Linked DNA regions of Homo sapiens. The protein of the gene in region 2 interacts with the protein of the main gene of each other region in a pairwise test. Each region holds a gene or a part of one and is shown on either strand. Other genes may lie near its edges.

What was found.
Region 1: the proteins of TMBIM6 (region 2) and CD300LG interact in binary tests that used the Homo sapiens proteins (3 or more experiments, as listed by UniProt).
Region 3: the proteins of TMBIM6 (region 2) and SOAT2 interact in binary tests that used the Homo sapiens proteins (3 or more experiments, as listed by UniProt).

What each region holds. Positions count from the first base shown.
Region 1 is NC_000017.11:43,843,257-43,850,317, forward strand, and holds the start of CD300LG (CMRF35-like molecule 9 isoform 1 precursor), read left to right. Parts: upstream 1-3,919; 5' UTR 3,920-3,960; coding exon 3,961-4,003; intron 4,004-5,301; coding exon 5,302-5,637; intron 5,638-6,493; exon of another isoform or gene 6,494-7,045; intron 7,046-7,061. UniProt on the Homo sapiens protein: Receptor which may mediate L-selectin-dependent lymphocyte rollings. Binds SELL in a calcium dependent manner. Binds lymphocyte.
Region 2 is NC_000012.12:49,736,579-49,744,588, forward strand, and holds the start of TMBIM6 (bax inhibitor 1), read left to right. Parts: upstream 1-4,978; 5' UTR 4,979-5,033; exon of another isoform or gene 5,034-5,190; intron 5,191-5,290; exon of another isoform or gene 5,291-5,558; coding exon of another isoform or gene 5,559-5,702; intron 5,703-5,859; exon of another isoform or gene 5,860-6,029; intron 6,030-6,838; exon of another isoform or gene 6,839-6,987; intron 6,988-7,834; exon of another isoform or gene 7,835-7,964; intron 7,965-8,010. UniProt on the Homo sapiens protein: Endoplasmic reticulum (ER)-resident protein that confers cellular protection as an anti-apoptotic protein by limiting multiple stress-inducing pathways surrounding the endoplasmic reticulum and mitochondria.
Region 3 is NC_000012.12:53,098,964-53,106,627, forward strand, and holds the start of SOAT2 (sterol O-acyltransferase 2), read left to right. Parts: upstream 1-4,522; 5' UTR 4,523-4,614; coding exon 4,615-4,696; intron 4,697-5,187; coding exon 5,188-5,243; intron 5,244-6,143; coding exon 6,144-6,280; intron 6,281-6,597; coding exon 6,598-6,657; intron 6,658-6,943; coding exon 6,944-7,051; intron 7,052-7,664. Other genes in the region: IGFBP6 (insulin-like growth factor-binding protein 6 precursor), read left to right, coding at 1,749-1,894, 2,078-2,197, 3,082-3,204. UniProt on the Homo sapiens protein: Catalyzes the formation of fatty acid-cholesterol esters, which are less soluble in membranes than cholesterol. Plays a role in lipoprotein assembly and dietary cholesterol absorption.

The DNA of each region.
Region 1 (7,061 bases), on a different chromosome or scaffold from region 2:
GTTACTGTATTTTATGTGTGGTCCAAGACAATTCTTCTTCTTGGCCCAGGGAAGCCAAAAGATGGAACACCCTGACCTACATAAACAATAAACATAACTTACACAAAAGTGCACTTATTTGTTCCACAGTTATTCATCATCTAAGACAGCAGTTCTCAACCCAGGGTATTTTTGCCTCTCAGTGGGATGTTTGACAATGCCTGGAGGCTTTTTTTTTTTTTTTTTTTTTGAGACAGAGTCTTGCTCTGTCACCCAGGCTGGAGTGCAGTGGCGTGATCTCAGCTGACTGCAAGCTCCACCTCCCGGGTTCACGCCATTCTCCTGCCTCAGCCTCCCGAGTAGCTGGGACTACAGGTGCCCGCCACCATGCCCAGCTAATTTTTTTGTATTTTATTTTTTTAGAGACGGGGTTTCACCGTGTTAGCCAGGATGGTCTCGATCTCCTGACCTTGTGATCCGCCCACCCCGGCCTCCCAAAGTGCTGGGATTACAGGCGTGAGCCACTGCGCCCGGCCTTTTTTTTTTTTTTTTTTTTTTTGAGACAAGGTCTCACTCCCATCACCCAGGCTGGCGTGCAGTGATGGGATCTCGACTCACTACAGCCTCGACCTCCCATGCTCAGGTGATTCTGTCACCTCAGCCTGTGTGTAGCTGGGACCACAGGTGCACACTGCCATGCTTGGCTAATTTTCTGTATTTTTTGCAGAGACGGGGTTTTGTCATGTTGCCCAGGCTGGTCTCAAACTCCTGGGCTCAAGTGATCCACTCACCTTGGCCTCCCAAAGTGCTGGGATTATAAGCATGAGCCACCTCACCCAGCCTGGAGACATTTTTGATTATCACAACTGGGAAGGGACTACTGGCATCTAGGGGGTACAGCTGGAGATGCTGCTAAACATCCTATAATTCACAGGACAGTCTCCCACAACAAAGAATTATCTAACTTAAAATGTCAACAGTACTGAGGTTGGGGAAACCTTGATCTAAGAGGAGCAAGTGACCCTCTTGGAGCAGCTGAAGTGATTTAGTCCAAGTCCAAACCGAGAGGAATTGGACCAGGGTGGCCATCGAAGACCAAGCAGCTCAGTCCCCTCATCCCTGCCACTGTACCTCTTGGGCACACAGAGGCCTTCCTGAGGATGTGATGAGGCTGTCACGAGCCCAGTGACCTGTCCAGGAGCCCTTGTGCCTCATTGCCTCTCCCAGGTGCAGTGATGGTGGGGCACCTCCCCATGCTTCTGGTGGGAAGCAGGACAAAAATATCCTCTCTTCTCAGATCCCCAGCCCACCACGGAGGTCTGTCTGTTGGCCCCATCTACCCCAGAGTGTGGCCTAAGGTGGAACTAGGTGCGAGGCTCATGCCAGCACCTCACTTTCACCCTTCTCCCCAGCCCTTGCTCCACTTCCCAGTCTGGTGAATCTGTTTCTAATGGAGTTCTTGAGCCAGCCTCCTGGGCTAGGTGTGGGGCTGGGAAATGGAGGGGAAGGACCTTCAAATATGCAGGAAGAGGGTAGGGATCCACTCAACATGCTCTTTATATAAATAAACATTTAATAACACCTCGCTTACTCTCCTAAAATGACAATCATAAATAATATGCCTTCACAAGCACTTACTTCTTTAAAATCACACTATAGTGCCTGAGCTATACTAGGGAGAAAAAATAAAAGGAAAGCAATTTATAACCAAATAACACATATTTCAATCTGTCAGTGCTCAGGTCCCATGACACTAGAAAGCATAATGAAGTGTCAGATGCTCGTCCTTGCATATAATAAATAAGTCTGAATTTAAGAAATGTAGAGGATCAGAAATTATTCTGTGTAAGGACAAAAATAAATAAATAGAAGAGCAAAGATATGCTATCAAATGCTAGAATAAGTATTACTTTAAGGCCGGGCATGGTGGCTCGTGCCTGTAATCCCAGCACTTTGGGAGGCCGACGTGGGAGGATCGCATGAAGCCAGGAGTTTGAGAAAAGCCTGACAACATAACAAGACCCTGTCTCTACTAAAAATAAAAAATTAGCCAGGCAACAGTGGTGCACGCCTGTAGTGCCAGCTACTTGGGAGGCTGAGGTGGGAGGATCACTTCAGCCTGGGAGTTTGAGGCTGCAGTGAGCTGTGATGGCGCCACTGCACTCCAGTTTGGGCAACAAGAGTGAGACCTGTCTCAAAAATAAGTAAATAAACAAATACTTTTTTTTCTTTTTTTAGATAGAATTTCACTCTTGTTGCCTAGGCTGGAGTGCAATGGTGTGATCTCAGCTCACCACAACCTCCACCTTCTGGGTTCAAGCGATTCTCCTGCCTCAGCCTCCCTGAGTAGCTGGGATTACAGGCATACACCACCATGCCTGGCTAATTTTATATTTTTAGTAGAGACTGGGTTTCTCCATGTTGGTCAGGCTGGTCTCAAACTCCCGACTTCAGGTGATCCACCCGCCTCAGCCTCCCAAAGTGCTGGGATGACAGGCGTGAGCCACCATGCTGGGCCATAAATATTTTTTAATCTGTGTTTTTTTAAAACTGCAAAAACAGATCACCTTTTGTAGTCTGTACATGTAAAAGAGAGTCAGGGGCTGAGATCATGGTAACAGTTTTCCCCACCGTGAACAGCTGGCCCTGCCCACTAAATGGCAGCAGTGCTTCGCAGTCATTGTGAAATTAAAACACTTCTCCCCACGTTACTAGACTCACACACACACAATCTTCCCTCCCAGAACCACTGAGTTAATGCTTCAGATATTAACCTGACAAGTCAGTAAAATTCCAACTGAACATTTGGAAGGATATATGCCAAAATATTAATGGTGCTTTTCTAAAGCAGAAGGGGAATTACAAGAAGCACTCCCTTTTTTCTTTCTTTCCTTTTTACGTTCTGTATTGTGTAAAATTTTGCTTACAACCTGTATGAACTTTGCAACCAAACCAAAAAAAAAGTCATTTTTGAAGCCAGTGTGTCAGAGCTCCCAGTAGTGTACATGTTTGTTTTGGTCCTTTCAAGGAGGATTCAAGTCTGCGATGGAGAAACCACCAATTCACTTTTTCAAATGCCAAAACAACTCCGCAGGCGTGGAGGAGACCTATCTTGCAGCGCTGTAGGCCCAAGGCACCAGGGAATCCGGTCCAGCTCAGCCCTACAGCTTTGCTCAGCCCCGTCTGCACCGCCGCCCCGTGGCCAAGGGCAGTACTGCGTCCTCCAAAAGGCAAGGGCGGAGGAGGGGCCAGGGGCCTTGCCCCAGGGGCAAGCTTCTTTCTGTCCCACTGACCACATGGCAGTCTGGTGAAGTTTATGGACCCCTCTCTCAGTATAATGGCGGGTAAATATATAAATAAAATATATATGCTGGAAAGAAAACTAATACTGGTGAGATGATTCTTAAAACTCTTTATAAATGTGTAATATAATAATAGCCGTTTCATTATTGTAAATAACCAGCTCTAGGGGCAGGTCTAGGAACTCATTGTTTTCCAAGCAGTGAGGGGTATACACGACGTTTCGAGATATCCACAACTTGATGTGCCAGTGTCTGTGATTGTAATTGGTAACAAAGTTGCAGGTACTGCTAACAGTACACTCTGAATAAGAGGAAAAGCTAAATATTAGAAGTTGATGAAAGTCAATATGTAACTTTTTCCCATGCGAATTCGACTTACAGACCCCTTAGGGCGCACGGACCACAGGTTAAGGCCCCCTTGAAGGGGCACGAGTTTAGGAGAAACTCTGGTGTGGGTTTTCAGTCCTGGAAGGTGAGCCCTGGGGTAGGCACGCGTGGGCGCTCAGAAAAGGGAAGGCAGAGGCGCCTCCCCGGCTGGGCCTGCGGAGGGATGACCCACACGCCCCTCCCCTCGCTTCCTTGGCCTGGTTTCACGCGACTAGAGAAAGTTAAAGACCCGTGTGACTGAAGAGGAGCTCACAGTTCCCAGCGTCTGCTCCCACGGTGTCCAGCGCCCAGAATGCGGCTTCTGGTCCTGCTATGGGGTTGCCTGCTGCTCCCAGGTGAGATGGGGAGAGGGTCTCGGGAGGGATGTGGGGCTCACCCTTGTGGTCTGCAGGGAAAGGACCTCTTGACTGACTGATAGCCCCACCCCACCTATCCTCAGCCTCCTCAGCCCTAGGGGAGCGGGGCGGGCTGGGGGTGGGGGGAGGTGGGGGTGGCGCCGGGGCCGCACTTGCTGTTTCTGGAACCTAGAGCCAGGTTTTCTCCAGACCTGTGGGTTTCCCCTCATGGCAATGTGGCTGTGAGAGTTGCTTTGCCTCTCTAATCTTAATTTTTCTACCCTGTGCCAAGCCTGGAGGCGGACAAGACACCCCATCTGGTTGCCCTGTTAAACTCAGCAAATATTTGTTGAATTTCGGCTATGCCTCTCCCCACAACCCTGAAAGATGAAGAATTATCACGTTTCATCAATTCTTTTGCTTTCTTTTTCTTTACCTTCTAACACTTAAAATCAGGATAAATCCTACAACTGATGTCAGTTGTTCAGTTGGCAATAGTGAGACCCCATCTCTACAAACAAACAAACAAACAAACAAACAAAATTAGCCAGGCATGGTGGTGCACACTTGTAGTCCTAGCTAGTGGGAGGCTAAGGTGGGAGGATCGCTTGAGCCCCAGAGGTCAAGGCTACAGTGAGCCATGAGCACCATTGCCCTCCAGCCTGGGCAACAGAGTGAGATCCTGTCTAAAAACAAAACAAAACCAGGCACGGTGGCTCACGCCTGTAATCCAAGCTCTTTGGGAGGCTGAGGCGGACGGATCACAAGGTCAGGAGATCAAGACCATCCTGGCTAACACGGTGAAACCCCGTCTCTACTAAAAATACAAAAAATTAGCCGGGCATGGCAGCACGTGGCTGTAGTCCCAGGTACTCAGGAGGCTGAGGCAGGAGAATCACCTGAACCCGGGAGGCAGAAGTTTCAGTGAGCAGACATCGGGCCACTGCACTCCAGCCTGGGCGGCAAAGTGAGACTCCATCTCAAAAACAAACAAACAAACAAACAAAACAAAACAAAACACTCAGAAACCCTGCTGGCTATCTGGCTGTCAGATTCTATCTGAATCTAGAACGCCACCCCTGCACCCCAATTCCTCAATGGGCCAGGGTTAGGGAAACAGCAACAGCCCTGCCCCAAGTTCCCCCAGCGTGGGAGGTTAGTAATGGCTCTTCCAAGGCTGTCCCCAGAAGGGATGACTGAGAAAAGCCTTCCTTCTTCCTCCTAAAATGGAAGCTCTGGCCTTGACCTTGGTACATGGAGCCTGGTTTTTCCAACCTCCACTCCTGCTCTGATTTTAGGTTATGAAGCCCTGGAGGGCCCAGAGGAAATCAGCGGGTTCGAAGGGGACACTGTGTCCCTGCAGTGCACCTACAGGGAAGAGCTGAGGGACCACCGGAAGTACTGGTGCAGGAAGGGTGGGATCCTCTTCTCTCGCTGCTCTGGCACCATCTATGCAGAAGAAGAAGGCCAGGAGACAATGAAGGGCAGGGTGTCCATCCGTGACAGCCGCCAGGAGCTCTCGCTCATTGTGACCCTGTGGAACCTCACCCTGCAAGACGCTGGGGAGTACTGGTGTGGGGTCGAAAAACGGGGCCCCGATGAGTCTTTACTGATCTCTCTGTTCGTCTTTCCAGGTAACAGATATCTCTCCTTCCCCAGGCTGGGGACAGGAGCTGCAGAGGGAAGAGGGAGGGGTGGTGGGGCATAATCCTGGTACCAACATTATGGGCACTGAGTCCTCAGGGAGATCATGCAGGTCAAGCACCGAGCAAGGCTTGGGGCACAGAAGGAGCCGCCTGAGTCTTGGCCATTGTCTCACTCTTGCTGCCCGAGGTCACACCAGTAGTAGATGTCAGAGCAGGACCGGACCCAGATCTGTCCAGGGCTGGGCTCGGCGCCTTTCCTTTCTGCCCAGGTGTGCTGGAGGGAGATTTCCATAGGCTGGGTACAAGATAGACATATCAGGGGATAAAGAAGACTCCTCGCCTGGTGTCAGAGATATTCCTGAGGCCTCCCGAGGCTGGGCCAACCATTGCTGCATTCCAGACCCAGCCCACAGCATCACCCTGGACATGCTGGCCTCGCCCTGCTTGTGCCCTCAACTCTCCCCTCCTGGCCTCCACCTCCCCAGATATTGAAGTCCAGCCACAGGTGCTAGAGTGCCTGGGAACCAGCCTCTGGGTAGGATGCCTGAAGGAGGGATCGTTAAATGCAGGGACACTAGGGGGCCGGGGCTGGAGCTATGGGGCCTGGGTAGGGGATAAAGCACCTCTCTGGGAGCCCAGAACCCCAAGTGGACCTGCTGAGCTAAGGAGAAAGAAGCCAGAGAGGGCCCAGGGGAGTGGGAGCCTTGGTCTGCTGGCCAGTGTGGGCGAGGTACATCTTTGTATCCCCATTTCACGGATGAGGGACTGAGGCTCCAAGAGACTAAGTGATTTGCCCAAGATCTCACAGCAGGAAGTGATGGAACTGGGATTCAAACACAAGTCGTTTCCAGCTTTGATGTCTGCTTTATTCCTCTCCTAGCCCCATAGCTGGGACCTATCCCAATCCCAGGCCCATCCCTACCACCATAGCCCCTATTTTTTTTTTATTCCTTTATCCATGGATCTTTAATTTGAGGAAATAAAGTTAAACTTGCCAAATAGCAGCAGCATCGAACCACATTGAATCTGTTCTTCATTATTTACAAGATTCTCTTATCTCTTCCAATTCTTATCAGTGTTCACATGTCATTTCTACCAGTTATGATCAAGTTCGCTTGTGTTTTAGGTTTACCCTCATTTGTAATTCTTTATTTGTGTATGACATGTGTATTGCTATATTATCGTCCTATATCGGACTCTATTGGCCTCTCTCTGATGGCAGTTGGGATGTTGAAAATGAAGAAGACTGACGACAGTGATGTGCTGGTAAATGTTTAACAGGCTGGGGATGCTGTCATTTTGTGGTGTTTTCCAATTTCTGTGGTGTCCATTTCTGTGGTCCAATTCCCATGGCCAATTTCCAGCCATCGACAGTTTAACACGATCTCACCAACTCCTGAAAAGTTAACAGT
Region 2 (8,010 bases):
AACATTAAAAATTGCATAAATATGTCTACAAGGTTTTGTTAAAATTAGGTTTAATATTAATAACACACTAATATAAAAGTAAAATTTAGCTTATCTGGTGTAAAAATCATAGAAAAAGCATTGTTAAATGTAAAATGGTATTTGGCTTTCTTTGGTTTAAAAACTAATAAAAATAGGTGCTAAAGAAAATTTCTCAGTAAAAAGGCACTAAGGACTAAGTCCACTGCCAAGGTCCCCACATTTAAAACAAAAGGTCAATTTCTTAAAAATTATATACTTGGTTTATCTTCCACTTTCCTTTCCCTCAAAAACTAAAAGTCTTTTAGCACATGTACCACCCCTAGAATTTCCGGTAAACCAGCACCAGCCTGAAGATCACGTTCTCATCAAAGGGTGGAAAGAAGAAAAACTCGAGCCAGCCTGGGAAGGACCCTACCTTGTGCTGCTAACCACCGAGACTGTTGTTTGTACAGTGGAAAGGGGATGGACTCACCACACCCAAGTCAAGAACCCCCTCCAGAGTCGTGGGCCATAGTCCCAGGGGAAAACCTTACCAAACTAAAGCTAAGAAAAATTTAACTTTTTCATCTATTCTATTACTCTTCCTTCTTTCCTCGCTCTATTGCTAACCGTCTAGTTATTAACATTACCAAGTCAATTTTGCCTCAAACTATTGCATTTAATGCTTGCCTTGTTATACCCTGTGGGGACTTGCCAAGTCAAAGACAGCTCTTTACTTCAGAAAAGTACTTCTGTCCCTTCTGACTCTCCTCAGATTGGGCATTAGTAAATTAGGACCATTTAATCTGGGGAAATTTCGATAAAGATTCCAGTGTCAACCAGGAGTCTTGCCCCACAATGTAGAGCTTTTATGCTGTAGTTGGTCCAACATTCTATGGACCACTAAAGAGCAAGGATGGACTGCCCTAACTGGTTTTTGTAATTTCCTAAAATCATACATTCATTTTACTAGAGGATCATAGAAGTTAAAGACTTAAAACAAACTTTAGCAGTTAAGACAGGATACCAAGATGCAAATGCCTGGTTAAAATGAATCAAATATTCCATCTGCACATTAAACAAAAGCAATTGTTATGCTTGTGCACATGGCAGGCCAGAGGCCCAGATTGTCCCCCTTCCACTAAGGTGGTCCTCCAGTTGACCAGGCATAGGTCTGCATGGTAGCTCTTTTCCAGGATTCTACAGCCTGGAGTAATAAGTCATGCCAAGCTCTCTCTGCTATATCCCGAAGTCCGGCACCCTGCGGGTCAGCCCCCAAGGGCTATCCAGCTTCCGTCTCTCAACACTAAGTTCACTTCATGTCTCCCTGGCATTCCTTGGAGACCTGAAAGGATGCAATGAGCTTAAGAATTTTCAAGAGCTTATCCATCAGTCAGCCCTTGTTCATCCCCGAGTGGATGTGTGGTGGTATTGTGGTGGACCTTTACTGAGCACTCTGCCGAATAACTGGAGTGGCACTTGTGCTTTGGTCCATTTGGCTATCCCTTTCACCCTGGCATTTCATCAACCAGAGGGAGAAAAAAATAAGACATCGTAAAGTGAGAGAAGCCCCTTATTGGTCTTCCGACTCTCACGTCCATTTAGACACAATTGGAGTCCCACAGGGAATACCAGATCAATTTAAAGCTTGGAATCAAATAGCGGCAGGATTTGAGTCAATATTTTGGTAGGTGACAGTTAATAAAAATGTAGATTGGATAAACTATATTATAACCAACAGCAACAAGCTTTTCATGAGTTAAAACTCATGTCGGCCCCAGCCCTGGGGCTACCTGACCTGACAAAACCCTTTACACTCTATGTATCAGAAAAAGAAAAAATGGCAGTTGGAGTTTTAACCCAGACTGTGGGGCCATGGCCAAGGCCAGTGGCCTATCTCTCAAAACAACTGGACGGGGTTTCCAAAGGCTGGCCCCCATGTCTAAGGGCCCTGGCAGCAATGGCCCTGTTAGCACAAGAAGCAGATAAACTAACCCTTAGGCAAAACCTGAATATAAAGGCCCCCCATGCTGTGGTAACTTTGATGAATACCAGAGGACATCATTGGCTAACAAATGCTAGATTAACCAAGTACCAAAGCTTGCTATGTGAAAATCCCCGCATAACCATTGAAGTTTACAACACCCTAAACCTTGCCACCTTGCTCCCAGTATCAGAGAGCCCAGTTGAACATAACTGTGTAGAGGTATTGGACTCAGTTTATTCTAGTGGGCCGAACCTCCAAGACCATCCTTGAACATCAGTAGACTGTGAGCTGTACATTGACAGGAGCAGCTTTGCCAACCCCTGCAAAGTGACTCTGAAAAAGACGACAAGCCCTGCTCCAGTCATATCCGGAAGCTGACTAATCCACACACGGCTGAAGCATGAGAAAACTCATCACGGGACTCATTTTCCTTAAAATTTGGACTTGTACAGTAAGGACTTCAACTGACCTTCCTCAGACTGAGGACTGTTCCCAGTGTATACATCAAGTCACTGAGGTAGGACAAAAAGTTGCTACAGTCTTATTATTTTATGGTTATTATAGGTGTACCGGGACTCTAAAAAGAACTTGTTTGTATAATGCTATTCTATACAAGGTATGTAGCCCAGGAAATGACCAACCTGATGTGTGTTATGACCCATCTGAGCCTCCCATGACCACAGTTTTTAAAATAAGATTAAGGACTGAGGACTGGTGGGGAGGACTCATAAATGATACGAGTAAAGTGTTAGCCAAAACAAAAGAAAAAGGGGTGCCCAAACAAGTCACCTTGAAGTTTGATGCCTGTGCTGTCATTAATAGCAATAAGTTAGGAAGGGGATGTGGCTCTTTTAGTTGGGAAAAAGGCTATATGACCGAAAATAAGTACATTTGTCATGAATGAGGACTGTGTGAAAATGAATGTGGATACTGGTCTTGTGTCATTTAGGCCACTTGGATAAAAAATGAAAAGGATCCAGTCCACCTTCAGAAAGGAAAAAATGGCTCTTCCTGTACTAAGGGACAATGTAACCCCTTAGAGCTAGTAATAACCAATCCCCTTGATCCTCGCTGGAAAAAAAGGGGAGCGTGTGACCTTAGGAATCGACAGGGCTGGACTGGATCGTCGAGTAAATATCTTAGTTCGAGGAGAAGTCTGTGGAAAATTTAACCTTACCAATTGCTGCCTGCACATAGATGATCAGAGGCAAGTAGTCGAAGATATAGTTAAAGACATGACGAAACTGGCACATGTGCCTGTACAAGTGTGACACGGATTTGACCCTGAAGCTATGTTTAAAAATGGTTCCCAGTGCTAGGAGGATTTAAAACTCTTATAATAAAAATTATAGTAGTAATAGCCTGCTTACTGATCCCTTATTTACTATCTGTACTCATTCAAATGGTAAAAGGTTTCATCACTACTCTAGTTCACCAGAATGCTTCAGCACAAGTGTACTACATAAATCACTATCGATCTGTCATGCAGGAAGACATAGGTAGTGAAGATGAAGGTGAGAACTCCCACTAATAAAATGAGTGAGAGTCTCAAAGTGGGGGAATAAGGGAGGAGACCACCCCTCATATTGTCTTATGCCCAATTTCTGCCTCCAAAGAAAGAAGTAGTAAAAACTAAAAGGCAGAAATGAAATCCACAAGCAGACAGCCAGGCACCACACCCTGGGCCTCGTAGTTAAAGATCGACCCCTGACCTAATCGGTTATGTTATCTATAGATTACAGACATTGTATAGAAAAGCACTGTGAAAATCCCTGTCCTGTTCTGATCTAATTACCGGTGCATGCTTGCTCAATCGATCACTACCCTCTCAAGCGGATCCCTTTAGAGTTGTGAGGCCTTAAAAGGGACAGGAATTGCTCACTCAGGGAGCTCAGCTCTTGAGACAGGAGTCTTGGCCGATGCTCCTGGCGGAATAAACCGCTTCCTGCTTTAACTCGGTGTCTGAGGGGTTTTGTCTGCGGCTTGTCCTGCTACACTACAGCAAAAATTAGGTTGTATTATAGAAAATTAACTTTTTTGGTTTTTTTGAGACGGGGTCTCGCTCTGTCTCCCAGGCTGGAGTGCAGTGGCACCATCTCGGCTCACTGCAACCTTCACCTCCAGGGTCAAGCAATTCTCCTGCCTCAGCCTCCCGAGTAGTTGGGATTACAGGCACACGCCACCACGCCCAGCTAATTTTTTAAATTTTTAATAGAGATGGGGTTTTACCATGTTAGCCAGGCTGGTCTCAAACTCCTGGCCTCAAGTGATCTGCCCACCTCAGCCTCCCAAAGTGCTGGGATTACAGACGTAAGCCACCACGCCCAGCCGAAAATTAACTTCTATTAATTGCATACCTGGGTTTGCCTACTGAGAATCATACCCTGGATATTTGTATTCTTTACTGAAAAGAACTGTTCTATCTTTCCAGAAAGTGGTTTCCTAAATTCTGGTTTTCCTCCTGGAATCCTGCTATTTCCTTCTCGCATACTCTAGAGAAATCGAAGTGTTTTCAAAGGTGCTCTGAAGCTTACGCTCCACTAGTTTCACAGTAAATCGCCCCTTGCGAGGGCGCTTTTTTTTTTTTTTTAATGTGTTCTCTGAATCGCTTTCCCCCTTTAACACTGCATGACAAGACTAAAGCCAGAATCCCAAGACTGCAGCGCTACCCCTTCACAAGCCGTCGGGCTGTCCCGGGCGGGGCCGGCCCATTTTCACTTTCTCCACTAGAGGCAGCAGCGCACCGTGACCCTGGCTTACTACGGTAAGAAAGCGGAGACCTTTTGCTTCGAGGCGGTTGGTGGCCAGTAGTCTTGATCGACAAGCTCAGGCCTCTGAACTAAGCAGCCGCTGTTTATGCACGTACAGCCAATGGAAAGGCAGGAGTGCGGCCAACGGCCAATGAGGACTGGTCTTAAGCGGACCACAGGGCGGGGTTTCCCTCGAGAGGCGAACGCCGGGTAAAAGATCGGGAGCGGAAGTGGGCGAGTCAGAGCACATCCGGTGTTAGAAGCGCTGGTAGGCCTTGGAGAGGCGGGTTAGGAAGGTACGTCTGAACCTAGTACTGGGCGAACTGGGAGTGAGAAATGGAAAGGGAGTTAGCAGTTACTGTCTGAGCAAGAGTGGCAGTAGCTTCCTTCTGCGGACAGATGGCACCCTGAAGGAACGAGGCCCTGCTCGGAGACCAGACTCGGGAAAACAGGGTGTGGAGGGAAGCTAGGGAACTAGTGCTGCGCGTGCGCAACAGTGCTGAAGCGGGGGTGGGGCGGAGGCGAGTCTGCGGGGGTTTTGGGGGGTGTCGAGGCCTCTATTCTGCCCCAGAGCGCTGGCGAAGGCCCCTTCTCAGCCCGCCTTTTCCTTTCTCCCGCTCCTTCTCCTCTACTAAGTGTAGACGCAGGGCCCCTTGGCCTAGCTTCGATCGTTCGAATTCAGAGCACGTCCTTCCGAGGTGAAGGAACGCGAAACTCCACCCATCCGATTGCTGTTCGGCTGCGGGCGGGTCCTTTGGTCGGGCTGACCCTGGGTGAGCGGCCCGGAGCCAAGACTCGAGGTAGGGCCTGGCGGGCGGGTGATGTCACACTCCTCTGTGACACGCGAGGCTCCTCAGTTACTTAGCCAACGGCAGAGGCGGGAAGTGAGAGGAGTCTGGGGCTGGGGCTGCCTTCCAGGCCCACGGGGCGGCCCCGCTCTTTTCGGATTGGTTACCTTTGGGCAGGTGAGGTGGCTTTGCTTTGCTTGGTCTTGAGGTTTTGTGGGCGTCTTTCTAAGTCTGCTCAGCAAGGGCGTCGTTGGGCAGTTTTTATCTTGGGCCTACTTGCTGGACCTGTGGTAACAAGTAGGCTTTGGTATCTTTGTATATTTACTGAGTGTAGAATTACTACCCGGTGCCAGCCCGGGCTGCTTGGGGTCATCAGCCTTTCATTGACCACCCCCACAACAAAAATCACTATGAACTTGAGACTGTGTTCTAGCAACTTGTGAATGTGTAACCCAGTAGAAGGGCTGACTGTGCTTGAAACAGACAAGGATTTTAAGGTCAAAGGTAAATAAATGGCAAATGGACTTTTCTAGTTACTTATTGATATTTATTTACAGTTTATCTTTTGTATGTGTGGTTTAAGAATTGAATTCTGGAAAGATACCGGAATTGCATAAACACATTTCTTATGACCTGCGTATACACACTTTTTTCTGTAATTATTGTATTTACACTCTTTGGTGTTTTCTTATTCTTTGTGTCTAATATTTTTGTTCTGGCCTAAAGAATATGTTGACATTTAGATTCTCTGCCGCCACTTTCCTCCAGTAGGGACAGAATAGTTGAACCCTTGAGAAATACAATCTGTACTTTTGATCCATAGTTTGCTTCTTCCGTTATTTATCTGGTTGTGGAAACATGGTTTAGTACCTTCCTCCTCTTTTTTTTTTTTTTTTTTTTTGAGGCAGAGTCTCACTGTCGCCCAGGCTAGAGTGCAGTGGCGCAGTCATGGCTCACTTGAACCTTGACCTCTCCTGGCTTAGGTGATCCACCCCAGCCTCCTGAGTAGCTAGGACCACAGGTGGACGTCACCAGCTCCAGCTAATTTTTGTATTTTTTGTGGAGATGGGGTATCACCATGTTGCCCAGGCTTACCAACTCCAGAACTCAAGCGATTTATTTATTTATTATTATTATTATGTTTTTTTTTTGAGACAGTCTCACTCCCTTACCCAAGCTGGAGTGCAGTGGTGCAATCTCGGCTCACTGCAACCTCCGCCTCCCTGGTGCATTCAATTCTCATGCCTCAGCCTCCTAAGCAGCTGAGATGACAGGCGCGCACCACCATGCCCAGCTAATTTTTGTATTTTTAGTAGAGACGGGCTTTTGCCAAGTTGTCCAGCCTGGTCTCGAACTCCACACCTCAAGCGATTCGCCCGCCTTGACCTCCCAAATTGCTAGGATTACAGGTGTAATCCTTTCCTAAAGAAAAAGAGTCATCTCTCCTGAAGAATAAGAAAAGGTAAAATTAATCTAGATACTTAGCATTTTCAAGTTATTTTCCCTGATTATAGATATAGTTCGCGCTCTTTATACAAATGCTGAAAATGCAGAAAAATGTCATAGGAATCAATGTATGTTTTGGGAGGGTTTTTTTGTTTTAAAGATTTGTTTTCACCTATGGCTGAAACTTTTGAAAGCTTATATAAATGAAAGCTTATTTTTCTACTGTAGGATGGAATAGTAAAAAGAGCACTAGACTATAGTGGTCAGAAGACCCCAAATCTGGTTCTGGCTCTGCTATTTAACTTTCTAATGTTGGTCAAATCAATACTAATGTTTGTTTTAGTACTTTACGTTGATTTCACACAGATTTTCTTATTGGCATTCAGTAGAGCAGGTATTGATCATCATCGTTATCTTACAGATGAGGAAGCTGAAATAACCTTAGGTAAAATGATTTTTCCTAGGTTATATAGTAGAAAGTGGCAGCACTTGTGACACCAAATCCTGTCCTCTTGCCACTATTACATTGCCTTTTTGAACTTAAAAAAGATGTATAAAATGGGCCTAATCTTTCCCTTTCCTTGTGGGTTGATGTGTGAGGATTGAAGGTGATACATATATAAAAGCACCTTAAAAGTTATAAATTTTATATAAATATAGTCAGGAGTATTAGTATAGAAGGTACTACTGCTGGCCTGACGAGTTTCATTTTATTTCGTAAACTGCCCAAGGGTATTAATTTTCTCTAGAGAAACCATTGAATATTCTGATGCTCTAACTTCTGATTTTTTTTCCTTTACTACTTTGACCTGGTTGTAGAATCTGGTAGAAATGTCTTCTACCACTCTGTTTTGTTCCCCCAGAGTTTCTAACCAAACTGCATGCAGCCCTTCGTAGTTTTTATACACATTTTGTTTTCCAAAGATGGTGTTCGAGACCAAGGAGAGAAAGGCTGTCTCCTTGACTTAAAGGTTACCTAAGTGACCCCTTGAGGTAGGTTCCACTCTGAGCCAGCTGGGGAATGTTGATTTGAGGTTAC
Region 3 (7,664 bases), 3.4 Mb from region 2:
CTGGGTGGATGAGAGGAGGCAGTTTGGAACTAAATGGTTGGGTGCTAAATGTAGGGAATGAAGGAGAAGGTCTGGGGAGGGGTGGGCATCCTGAGGAAGAAGGATCAGACTCAGGATTGCAGGGGAAATGTCTCCTGGGTTGTGAGTGGTAGTTAGCTGGGAGCTTGTCTTTAGGCACAGAGGAAGAGGATCCCTTCAGGGGTTCTGATATCTGATTAGATGTTAGGCAAATTCCAAGCAGTCAGTACATGCTCCCCTTTCTGCCTTTTCCTGTCCCTGACTTATTTCCTCACCCCTTCCCAGTCCTGAGCTCTCCCCGGACCCTCCGGAAACTTTCTCCAGAGCCAGGAGCAACCTGCAGGTTGGAAGCCCCTCATTCCTTGCACCTTCTTAATCTGCCCTCAGCCTATCTTGGTTAAGGGTTGAATCCATGTGCTCCTGGGACCACTGGGGTTGAGCTGGCCTGGGTCACAGGGTACCAGAAGGGAGAGGTTCCCACTGCAGTGCCCCAGAAGTAACCACATCTCAGGCCTGGGAGGGGTGGGTTGAGTCATAGCAAGGTCACAGCAGGGACACACATTCCTTTTGGGTCCCTGTTGGCCCCCCTCCTACATCCGTTGCTCTTCTGCCCCAGCTCTCCGGCTTCGTGCGCCCCCTTCTGGCCTCTGGTGGAACAGCCAGGTCTTTTCACCCAAAGCCCAAAGCCCCAAATAGTCCTTTGAATTTGTTCTCCATTTTTTCATTTATTTTATTATTTATTGTAATTAATTGATTGATTTTTAAATTAGTTAATTTTTTAAAATTAAGTAATTAGTTAATTTTTTAAAATTAAGTAATTAATTAATTTTTTAAAATTAAGTAGTTAATTTTTTTTAATTAAGTAATTAATTAATTTTAAAAAGTATTTATTTATTTTGAGACAAAGTCTCACTCTGTTGCCCAGGCTGGAGTACAGTGGTCCAGCGTCTCACTGCAACCTCCGCCCCCCCGAGTTCAAGCGATTCTCCTGTCTCAGCCTCCGGAGTAGCTGGGACTACAGGAGCCTGATACCATGCCAGGCTAATTTTTGTATTTTTAGTGGAGACGGGGTTTCACCATGTTGGCCAGGCTGGTCTCGAACGCCTGACCTCAAGTGATCTGCCCACCTTGGCCTCCCAAAGTGCTGGGATGACAGGCATGAGCCACTGCGCCCAGCCAATAATTTATTTATTTTTGAGACAGGGTCTCACTCGGTTGTCCAGGCTGAAGTGCAGTAGCACAATCATGGCTCACTGCAGTCTTGACTTCTGGGGCTCAAGCAGTCCTCCTGCCTCAGCCTCTCAAGTAGCTGGGACTGCAGGTGCACGCCACCACACCTCGGTAATTTTATAAATTATTTGTAGAGATGAGGTTCTCATTATGTTGCCCAGGCTGGTCTCAAACTCCTGGGCTCGAGCAATCCTCCCACCTCTGCTTCTCAAAGTTCTGGGATTACAGGCGTGAGCCATTGCACCCATCCTCATTTTCCATTTTTGCTTTCCAAAATTCATCTCCTTTATAAGCCTTAAAAATCAGTATGGGAAATACTGGGGAATATTGTCAGGAAAAGTAATATAACTATTTGTCAGAGAAAGAAACTAGGGCCAGCATCATGCAACAGCGGGGCATAAGGCCCTCCCTTCCTTACTTCAGCAGGTGATGTGGGCAAGGCCCTTCTCCACATGGCTCTGCCTGATTTCTGACCTCTCCTTCTCCTATTCCTCCTCCAGTTGCAGAGGAGAATCCTAAGGAGAGTAAACCCCAAGCAGGCACTGCCCGCCCACAGGATGTGAACCGCAGAGACCAACAGAGGAATCCAGGCACCTCTACCACGCCCTCCCAGCCCAATTCTGCGGGTGTCCAAGACACTGAGATGGTGCGTTTGGAGCTGGTAGGGAGCAGGAGGGGTGGGAAGCCCTGGAGACTTCCATCTGAGACTGCTCCCTTGGGCTTGGAGACGTCTCCATTGTCTGTCCTGGGTGCTTGCCTGGTGGGCCAGAAGGTTGGAATGGGGAGCTGGGCTGGAGCGGTTCTAAGCTGCCTACTCTCCCTTCCCCAGGGCCCATGCCGTAGACATCTGGACTCAGTGCTGCAGCAACTCCAGACTGAGGTCTACCGAGGGGCTCAAACACTCTACGTGCCCAATTGTGACCATCGAGGCTTCTACCGGAAGCGGCAGGTGAGACTATTTTTCTTCTCCTCCTGCTCCAGCAGAAGGCTCCTGCCAGGGAGTGGGGGCGGTGCTGCTTACAAAGCTGCATAAATAAGACACTGCCCCATCTTTAAGGATCTTCCAACTTTAGGAGAACATAGAGAATATAATTTATTAAACAAACTTAGAGAATAATCAACCACACACTGTGAGAGAAAACCCACTTAAGGAATGCCCTAACTCAGTGGCTCTTGAACTTGAGGCATCAGAATCCTCCGGAGGGCTTATGCCACACAGATAGCTGAGCCCCACCGGCAGCCTTCCTGATTCAGGAGGTGTGGGGTGGGGCCTGACAATATGCATTTCTAACATGTTCCCTCGTGATCCGGATTTGGGAACGTCACTTTGAAAACTACTGTTCCAGGCTAGCAGAATGCACACAATTTATTGGTTGAAGAGGGGGAACTAAAGAGAGGGAACACTGGGCCGGGTGCGGTGTCTCATGCCTGTAATCCCAGCACTTTGGGAGGCCAAGGCTGGTGGATCACGAGGTCAGGAGTTCAAGATCAGCCTGAACAACCTGGTGAAACCCCATCTGTTTTAAAAATTACAAAAATTAGCCAGATGTGGTGGCATGCACCTGTAATCCCAGCTACTCAGGAGGCTGAGGCAAGAGAATTGCTTGAACCTGGGAGGTGGAGGTTGCAGTGAGCAGAGATCATGCCAATGCATTCCAGCCAGGGCGACAGAGCGAGACTCCATCTCAAAAAAAAAAAAAAAAAAAAAAAAAAGAGAGGGAACCCCCGAGGAGACGCTCAGGTGTTTTTACATCCTCAGACTCAGATGTCCCCTCTCATTCTCCTGCTGGAAGCCTCTGGCCTCACTCCTGACCTGTGTGCCTCTCTCTCCAGTGCCGCTCCTCCCAGGGGCAGCGCCGAGGTCCCTGCTGGTGTGTGGATCGGATGGGCAAGTCCCTGCCAGGGTCTCCAGATGGCAATGGAAGCTCCTCCTGCCCCACTGGGAGTAGCGGCTAAAGCTGGGGGATAGAGGGGCTGCAGGGCCACTGGAAGGAACATGGAGCTGTCATCACTCAACAAAAAACCGAGGCCCTCAATCCACCTTCAGGCCCCGCCCCATGGGCCCCTCACCGCTGGTTGGAAAGAGTGTTGGTGTTGGCTGGGGTGTCAATAAAGCTGTGCTTGGGGTCGCTGGCTTGTGTCTCTGTGTCTGCCTCTCACAATTCTGGAATCCCTGGCCCTCTCTTTACCCCACTACAGCTCACTCACAGCATTTCTCCTTTCCTGTGGATACCTTTAGTCCTTCCTGTGACAGCCAGGCAGAAGCTTCAAGCCATCAAGCCTCACAGAGCTGCCCACCAGGAGTTGGGAGTGGGAAGGGGAGACACTGAGATCATGGCCTTAATCTGAAGTTGTGACCTTGTTTCTAACACTGATCTTTGGACACAAAGGGAGGGGAAGGATTAATAGTTAATCCCAGCAGGAACCCAGCAAAGAGGAACTCTCAAAGCACATACCCTTCTGTTACTTCCTACTAAAAAAAGAAGGAAATTATTACTAATATATGAGCTCATCCCATGGCCCTGAACCATGTGATTTTACCTGGACAACCTCATTTTGAGCTTACGATAACCTTGTGATATAGGGATTTTTACCCCTATTTTTCAGAGGAGGAAACTGGCTTAAAATTTGGGGTCACTTGCCTGAAATTATATAGCTGGTAAATGACAGAGGGAGGTTTGCATCCGGTTCTTCCATATGTGACAATACCTGGTATTCCCTAGGTGCTGAATACGTGTTTGTTTAGTCTCCTTTCTGCCTACATGCTCACCCAAGCAGGTGTCAGGAAGCGGCCCTGTCAGTTCAGGGGCCCTGACACTCAGCCTTTCCTGGAGGGGCCCCAGTTCCGTGAGTAGCACAGTGCCAACCCCATCAGAATATTACCACATGTGTCAATCACACACCTTGTGGTGAAAGCGAGCTGAACGCACTGATACATGAAGACATTTCTGACTCCTCCCTGACCTTCAGCCTGCTGGGAGAGAGACTGGAAGGCCAGCCATGCTAGGTGACAAGCTTCTGAGAGGCAAAGTTCCCCTCCCCAAGATGTACCCAGCCACTATTCCTGTGTGTGTGTGGCGGGGTGGATAGCACCCTTGGAGCTGGGCATCTGGATGGTGGTTGGGGTGTTAGGGGGATGTGGCGATCCCTGCGACAGACAGCAGAGTGAGGTCTGAATCTGAGAAGCTCTGCCTCCAGATCAGATAACCTATCGCACTCCCAGAGGCCCCCTCCTCCTGAAAGGACTTTAGTCTTTGGAGCTGTCACCTGAGCTGAGTGGGACAAGAGCTCTACAGGGCAGGCCACACTGCGAAGGAAGGAGGCAACACGGGCAAGGGCTGCCTGCTGCCCGCTGGAGACCGCACCATGGAGCCAGGCGGGGCCCGTCTGCGTCTGCAGAGGACAGAAGGGCTGGGAGGGGAGCGGGAGCGCCAACCCTGTGGAGATGGTGAGCCGCCCTCGGGGGTGCAGAAGGCACAGGCAAGTGGGGGGGAGGCGGGGAGAGATGCGCTATGGAGAGAAGGCTCCAACTGCCTGATGCCAATCCTTCCTGCTGTCCAGAGAGGCCAAGGAAGGTAGACCCTGGCCTCAGCCCAGAGCCACCCAGCTGGAAGATGGAACAGAAAAGAGCTATGTCAGAGCTGTGGCCTGGCCTTATCCTTCTGACTGTTTAGCCCCAGATAGTGAATGGAGTAGCTTCCCATTCCCTGAGTGCCCTGTTCCCAGTAATGTCACCAGGCCCCCTGCTTGCCTATGGCCTCCTCACCACTGGCAACAGCAACTTCCCCTTCTAGTAGCCCCAACCATGATACTAGATATTGGCTGGTTGGGGTGAGGGCAGCTGCTGAGCACACAAAGCATTTCCTGACCACAGGATGCCTCTGGGTCTGCAGAACCCCAATTCCTCCTGTTGACTGTGCCTTTGATCCCTCCTCACAGGAAACACTGAGACGCACAGAGCCCCGGACTTGGTACAATGGACCCGACACATGGAGGTGAGGGATGTCAGAGGTCAGAGGTCAAGTGGACAGATCCTTGGTAGCAGGAAGCAGGAGTGAGGCTTGGTGATAAAGATGACTTTTTTTTTTTTTTTTTTTTGAAACAAAGTCTCGCTCTGTTGCTCAGGCTGGAGTGCATTGGCACAATCTCGGCTCACTGCAACCTCTGCCTCCCAGGTTCAAGCGAGTAGCTGAACTACAGATGAGTGCCACCAGGTGTGGCTAATTTTTTTTTTATATTTTTAGTAGAGACGGGGTTTCACCATATTGGCCAGGCTGGTCTTGAACTCCTGACCTCAAGTGATCTACCCGCCTCGGCCTCCCAAAGTGCTGGGATTACAGGTGTGAGCCACGGTGCCCAGCCTGATGACTTGTTCCTGAGTGCAAAGATCGGATTCGAATTAAGGATGGAGATGGAGGGGTTTGAAGCACAGGTCCCAAAGGTCACCAAAAGTCAGCCAGTAGATAGAGTCTTCCTGCTAGTGCGGCTGGAGGCCAGGGGTGAGGAGTGACAATCGGAGGTGACCAGGCTGGAATTCAGACCCAGGGAGGGGAAGCCTTGCTCCTGCTGTCACTCCCTGATCCTCGCTGCTGCCCCAGGAAGCCAGAAGGAGATCAACTCTGGGCAGGGATCATGGCTTGTTCATCTTTTTACCACAGCACTTAGCACTGCGGGGTCCTACCCCACCAGCAGACCCATCACCACCCCACCAATGCCTGCCCTTCCCCCCGCAGGCCTGCCACCACTGAACCCCCATCCCTGCTGACCCCCCAGGTTGTTTTTTTTTTTAAAAAAAGCACTGTGCCTGGCATAGACAGAAATTCAGTGAATGTCTGGTGAATGAAAGGATGGCTGACTGGAGGGACAGTGGGCTCTACCCTGGCTTTGTCCCGTAGGCTGTGAAGGCACAATTGCTGGAGCAAGCGCAGGGACAACTGAGGGAGCTGCTGGATCGGGCCATGCGGGAGGCTATACAATCCTACCCATCACAAGACAAACCTCTGCCCCCACCTCCCCCAGGTTCCTTGAGCAGGTGAGTCTGGGGAATGGCTGCGCGGGCTCCTCTGTAGCAAGGATCATGAGCTAGAAACATCACGTTATGTGCCCTTGCCAGCTTTATCAGGACCGTGACTCCAGCCTTCCCTCTTCCCCCCTTGTCTTCCTAACACTGACCTCCATCTACTGGGCCTCGCTCTGCCCTGGCCCTGACCTTCTACCCGGTCCTGCCCTCTGGCCCTAGCCCTGACCTTTCCCTACCACTCCCCTTGGCTCCCAAGTATTGACCTTCTGCATGGCCCTGCCCTCTGCCCATTTACTTTTTCCTGACCCTGAACAAACATCTCAATTCAGGACCCAGGAGCCATCCCTGGGGAAACAGAAAGTTTTCATCATCCGCAAGTCCCTGCTTGAGTAAGTCGGGGTGATGACAAGTAATGGGAGGAAAAGAAAGGGCTTTGGCTAGGGGTCAAGGTACCTCATTTCTCATCCCCAGCCTCTAGGTGGTTTGTGGAGAGGACTTGGAAAGGGTTTCTAAGGTGCAGGTCCCCTATTTGCCCTAGGCATGGTTGTGGAAGAAAGGCCTTTAGCTGGAAGTTCTGGATCGCTAGGCCCCATGCCTCATGTGTACAGTGTCTGAGCTAGTTCACACAACCCTGAGGACCCTCCCACACTGACTTTCGGGCCCCTGTCCCTCTAGTGAGCTGATGGAGGTGCAGCATTTCCGCACCATCTACCACATGTTCATCGCTGGCCTGTGTGTCTTCATCATCAGCACCCTGGCCATCGACTTCATTGATGAGGGCAGGTAGGTCCCCTTCCCACCTGGGACAGGCACACCTATCTGATCAGACCCTCTGGGTCCTCAGTGCCCCACCTGCCCTTGGGGCAAGAGGACACAGGTTCCCCCTTTGGTTATTGGACATGTACCAACATTGCTCCCAACAACCTTTCCACCTGAAACACTCTCTAGGATCCCTTCCTTCCCCAGCCTTGGTTGGCCCTTTGTCTGTCCTCCCAGGGCCGGCCACTCTCAAATGCTTCTCAATGACACCTTGCCCTGAGGCAGATGTGTGTGTGTGTGCACACATGCACACCCATACACACTCCTTTCCAAGTCAGTTCTATTCAAGTAACCTCCATTGAGCACCTCCCGAGTACCAGTCCTAGTGGCCAGAGAAATGAGGGGGGCAGACCCCACTCCTGTCTGTGAGGCACTCCCAGTCTTGTGGGGAAGACAGACATGTAACCAAGTGCCTGGGTGGGTCATTTCCCCCACAGAGCACCCCATCCAACTGTGAGGATGAGCCTCAGAGAGCTGTATACCCCTGGGGGTCTGTATTTTCATACCTCCCACTATTCCCAGACCAAACTGAGGGTTGGGGCTGCTATTTCTCATGGCCCAATAACGAGATGCAGAT